2 separate regions of the Homo sapiens genome follow, and region 2 is linked to region 1. Evidence: fine-mapped expression QTL. A gene starts in region 1. The other region holds a variant in brackets. All regions are shown on one strand. Distances are between the middles of the regions. Region 1 holds the start of SENP7 (SUMO specific peptidase 7). Region 2 overlaps SENP7 (SUMO specific peptidase 7).

Region 1 (2,919 bases):
CAGGAGGTGAAGCTTGCAGCGAGCCGAGATTGTGCCACTGCACTCCAGCCTGGGCGACAGAGCGAGACTCCGTCTCAAAAAAAAAAAAAAGTTAATTTGTGAGGAAACTGAAAATTCAATTATTTTTCAGAAAGCAATGTTTTTGTTAAACAGAAATTAACCAAATAAAACGAAATCCTTACAGTAAACTTCAATCCCAGCAAGACTTAAAGTATTTCTGCTTTGCAGTCATTCCTGCCATGTAGAACACTTCCCCAGGCCCAACACCCCACAACACCTGGGGCCTTACCTCTACCTGGGGACTGACCACATTATAATTAAGAAGGCTTAACTCACGATGAAGGGGACTGCTCTAGTGGACGAGTTGGGCCGATCCCTTTATTGACTCCGTTAGGATGGGAGATGGGGGTTGGAGGGATAGGCGTTAGGGGTATAAAGGGGCCAGCTTGGGAATCAAACCCTACTTCCAGAGTCCCTTCGGGCTTTGAACATGCCAGAAACATTTTCCCTGCTTAGAGCACTGTGCTGAATTTTGTTAAACTTGTGATTAAATCGTCATGAAAGCTTACACGTGCATTTAAAAATTATTCAGATATGCACCATTAGGGATAATCAGGCTAATAGTACCAGACCTTGAGTTCATTGAGGACTGGATTAGTCCCTTAAGTATCGTGGTAAATGTTAATTGAACAAATTCCAAGTTTATAGCCACCCACTTTCTGTCATATCAGCATTTCAGTTATTGAAAAATTAAGTTCTAGCTTTTCTTTTAAGGAACTTTAAAAATCACAAGTTCGAATTTTAAAAAGGAATCCTAAGACATTTTTCCTCGTCTGCTGACATATTTCCACAGCAAATGCTAAACTAATAGCTAGGCTATTATTAGGTGATTTTGCCATCTTAAAATCTTTTGGTTTCTGAGTTCGAGGAAAGGCGTTGGGGGCAAATATGTAAGAGAGGCTGTGAGGGATGTAATACTGCAAACGCTAACGTTTTGTTTTCATAGTTGTTTGGCCACCTCGCGAGATCCAGTGAACCGGAGGAGTTCCTGTTTTTCCCTTTTAATTTTTGTCAATCTAATCTTCAAAGTCAACAAAGCTAAAATCGAGCACCCAGGTGGTTCACCTCCCCAGAGGGGCTCAGATCATGAAATAAACGCCACCAAAAAAACGCTGGAAGAGGCAGCCCACAGTGAAAAGTCCCAGGAAGTGATTTCCGGTCGAAGGTGGGAGGGGCGGCTGATTTCCGGTCGAAGGGCAGGCGACGGCTCTTGCGCAAGCGCGCTTCGCACTTTGCGGGCTTTTTTTTTTTTTTTTTTTTTTTTTTTTTTTTCCTTTCCCCTCCCCCTCCCTCTCCAAGCCGGAGGGGTCCTGAGGTGACAGCGCCTGCAACTGAAATTTCAGCAGCGGGAGAAGATGGACAAGAGAAAGCTCGGGCGACGGCCATCTTCATCCGGTGAGAAAGGGTCAGAGAAGGGCTGAACATATTGTCTCCTACCCGGGGGAAACGGGAGGCGCAGGCGGCAGCTGGGGTTGCGGCCCGAAGCCGCGGGGGCGAGGGCGGGGGCGGGGAGAGGAAGGGGCGCGCACAATGGAAGGCTCCCGGGTCGCCCCCGCCCCTGGAGTCGAAGACCCGGTCCGAGCTGTCATCGAAGCCTCGGGCGCTCTTCACCTCAAAACCCCTTTTATTTTTTCCCTCCTCCCGCGAACACCCTCCTTGCGTCTCATCGGCCCATGGATCTTCCCGGTTGGCTTGTCACTCTCTGCCACGCCTTCCTCGTAATTCCACCAATGTTCCAATTTCATTTCGGCTTCTCAGCGCCTGACCCCACTTTCCTCTCTTCCTTTGATTCTCGACTTTGCGTCCCTTCCCCTCTCCCTCCTCTTTCCCTCAGCAGGTAGCTGCTGCTGGGGAGGAAAGGTGGGGCTTGCGACCGGAGACTCCTTTTCTTTGATACAATGCCTCTCCGGGTCTCGTTCTGCTGAACAGGCCCGCCTAATAGCCTTTTTCTTTTCCAGCCTACCCTGCGTCTTCCAAAAGTGATTGGAAAGTCAAACAAAGGATTTGAAGCCGTGCTTTCGTTGTGTTTTTATTTTCAGCATATTTTTTGTTTTGGACGTTACTTTGTTTTAAATGACTATCTTCAGTTTTGTGTACAACGTCTTGGAAACAAGAAAGTGGAGTTATAAAAACGTGAGGTAGAGCTCCTCCCAGTTGAGAAGTTTTTATCAAACATTTCATCCATTAGGGGGTCCTCAAGTCCTTGTGTTAAGTCCTATGGATGGTAGGAGGAGAGGACGAGGACTCATATGCTTACAGTCCAGTACACAAACGAACGCCCAATGAATCAATTATTTCATTTCATTTTTCTGTTTCTGATGGTACCGTTGGTTTCTGCAGAGACAGTTAACAATTACAGATTTATTGGCCGGGCGCGGTGGCTCACGCCTGTAATGCCAACACCTTGGGAGGCCGAGGCGGTCGGATCACAAAGTCAGGAGATCGAGACCATCCTGGCTAACATTGTGAAACCCCGTCTCTACTAAAAAATGCAAAAAATTAGCCGGGCGTGGTGGCGGGCGCCTGTAGTCCCAGCTACTCAGGAGGCTGAGGCAGGAGAATGGCGTGAACCCGGGAGGCGGAGCTTGCAGTGAGCCGAGATCGCACCACTGCACTCCAGCCTGGGCAACAGAGCGAGACTCTGTATCAAACAACAACAACAACAAAAAAAAAACAAAAAAAACCAATTCCAAATTTATTTAGGAGTGCCCTGTGGCAGTGCATCTCAAACTGCTTTCAGCCTTAATTGCAAAGGAGAGTGATTATGGATCTCTGGGGACACTGCTTGAAGCAGTTGAAAACCTGAAATCCCTTTTCATATGCAACCAATGTTATCGATGTTCTTGGTGTATATTCTGG
Region 2 (2,919 bases), 150 kb after region 1:
TATTTTCTTGTATCGCTCTTTCCTTAGTAGGTAGTTGTACATCCTTCAGACTTTTCTTTTTCTTTATTTCAGCCAAATACTATTCATACTGTCTAGTCATTTTTTTTTGCTTGCTCTGTAAAATTATTATTAGATTTATTTTATCAGTAGCAATTTACTTATCAAATTCTTTAAGCTTCTGTTTATCTAGAGTTTAGGGAATTTATTCTAAGTAAAGAATTATCATATTAAATACATACATTTTCTATTTTCAAAGACTTAGTATATAAGTAGCAATAAAACAGTAAGACAGCTTTTCAATTTCTTTGATCCATAAATCATTTCAGGACCTTGTAATGTTTTTGGGTTGTAATTATAAACATGATTCAGATTTATATAGTAAATGAGATATTGAAGGCAGTGGTTGATTTTCATAATTTTTAATGTTGTTATATTGTTGATTTTTAAATTTTTTTACCAAAGTAGTTTTACCAAAGTAGTCACATTGGCATTATTACTTTTGCAAAATAAAAATATGTAAATACATCTTCTCATTCTAAAGTTGACTTAGATCATGGGAGACCGTCTGACAAAGCATTTGTAATGATGGAAATCTCCCAATTTCACCCTTTAAAAAATTATCAGGCATCAGATTGGACAGACCAAATCCTGTATCTTTAAATTTGGGAGACATTGGCAAGTATAATGTAGTATAATTGTTTAGTTTTCTATCCATGTAGTTATAGAAGTGATATAATATTTTTACTTTTTTTTAGGAATTTAAAAATGGTTTAAGCAAGCCAAATTTGAAAAATGCTATTTTTTTCTATGTGTTTATGTTTAGAAAAAACAAGAAGATGACTCAACAATATCCACTGAGTTTGAAAAGCCAAGTGAAAACTATCATCAGGATCCAAAACTGCCTGAAGAAATTACAACTAAACCTACAAAAAGTGATTTTACTAAACTATCCTCACTTAACAGTCAGGAGTTGACTTTGAGTAATGCCACCAAAAGTGCCTCTGCCGGTTCAACCACTGAAACCGTTGAGAACTCTAATTCCATTGATATTGTGGGGATTTCTTCCCTGGTTGAGAAGGATGAGAATGAGTTGAATACCATAGAAAAGCCTATTCTAAGAGGACATAATGAAGGGAACCAATCACTGATCTCAGCTGAACCAAGTAAGTGACAGGAGGATTATAAAGTTACTTAATTTCCTCTGCTTTACTTAGTTATTTTTTTATTCTTCTTGAACAAATTTGGCTAAGGCCATAAGCTGTTTATGACATCATTGTGGAATATATTAACTTTAGGAAAAAAGGGCTTGGGGTTTGGGGTCTCCTTCATGAGTTTTAAAATATCGATTTAGGTAAACTAATGGAGGACTTGAAAACAGAAGTAATTTTTTTCTTAGATTAGTAAGTACACTGTCATC[T/G]CAATAGTTTTAAAATAGATTATTTAAAGACCATCATTACTGTCATTTGGTTGATGAATTATGCAGAGTTTAAGTGCTATCTGATTATTATCATTAATTTTCATTTAATCAGCTTCTGAGTAGTTGATGCCATCACATGGTACAAAGAAATTCCAAAGGTTTTAAAGGATCTCCAGTGAATACTCGCCCACATCTTCCCCTAGTTATTAATTTCCCATTCCTTGAAGCAATTCATGTAACAGGACTTAAAAGTACAATTTAGAGTGATGGCACAATACACTGTTAGAACTAGAATTTGTTACTAAGGCCTCCTCATGGCTTTATCCATTTTTAAACATCTTTATTCTTTAGAAGGTAAGGGTACAGGTAACTGCTGAATAATTGCGCTGATATAGAGTCATTGTCTGTAACTACTATAAATCAGATAACAACTGATAGGCCTGTTTCTAAATTGAATAAATTTAGATGATTCAGTTTAACAGGATTATTAAAAATAAATTGCATTAATTAGAAAGTTCTTTTTTTTTTTTTTTTTTTTTTTGAGACAGAGTCTCTCTCTGTCGGCCAGGCTAGAGTGCAGTGGTGCGATCTTGGCTCACTGCAACCTCCCCCTCCTGGGCTCAAGTAATCTCCTTAATCAGCCTCCCAAGTAGCTGGGATTATAGGCATGTACCACCATGCCCGGCTAATTTTTGTATTTTTGCTAGAGACAGGGTTTCACCATGTTGGCCTGGCTGATCTTGAACTCCTGACCTCAGGGAATCTACCCACCTCAGCCTCCCAAAGTGCTGGGATTACAGGAGTGAGCCACTGCTCCCGGCCAAAAGTTCTTTTTTTGATATGTGATTGTTACACATTTAAAATACATTTTTCGTCTGGGTGCAGTGACCCACACCTATAATCCCAGCACTTTGGGAGGCCAAGGCAGGAGGATCACCTGAGGTCAGGAGTTTGAGACCAGCCTGGCGAACATGGTGAAACCCTGTCTCTACTAAAAATACAAAAATTAGCTGGGCATGGTGGCGCATGCCTGTAATTCCAGCTACTCGGGAGGCTGAGGTAGGAGAATTGCCTGAGCCCGGGAGGTGGAGGTTGCAGTGAGCCGAGATGGGGAGACTGTGTCTCAAAAAATAAATAAATAAATAAATAAATAAACAAAAATACATTTTTCTTTTCCGTTTTAGTTGTTGTTTCCAGTGATGAAGAAGGACCTGTTGAACATAAAAGTTCAGAAATTCTTAAGTTACAATCTAAGCAAGACCGTGAGACAACTAATGAAAATGAGAGTACTTCTGAATCAGCATTGTTAGAACTACCATTGATTACATGTGAATCTGTACAGGTAATTTATTTCTGTCTTCTCATAGATTAACAATGAAATGTACACTATTGGTTAATGACTGTTATTTGTTTTATCAAGCTGAATATTGTAATGAAAATTACAAATTTTCTTAGTTTGAATTTTCAGACAACTTTTATAGTAGTTTGAGTGAAATACGTAG

What was found. PIP is the estimated chance that this variant, and not a neighbour inherited with it, causes the effect.
Region 2: its variant is the best candidate, but not a certain one, in a credible set for the expression of SENP7 in whole blood (INTERVAL, PIP 0.86).

What each region holds. Positions count from the first base shown.
Region 1 is chr3:101,511,627-101,514,545 of GRCh38, reverse strand. It overlaps SENP7 (SUMO specific peptidase 7), which reads left to right and starts at 1,334. Exons shown (of 24, transcript NM_020654.5): 1 at 1,334-1,455. The coding sequence starts at 1,416.
Region 2 is chr3:101,364,674-101,367,592 of GRCh38, reverse strand. SENP7 (SUMO specific peptidase 7) reads left to right here. Exons shown (of 24, transcript NM_020654.5): 9 at 824-1,163; 10 at 2,602-2,759. Among named protein-coding and RNA genes, the nearest start is that of IMPG2, 46 kb to the right of the region's middle. The variant T/G (reference allele first, on the strand shown) is at 1,418.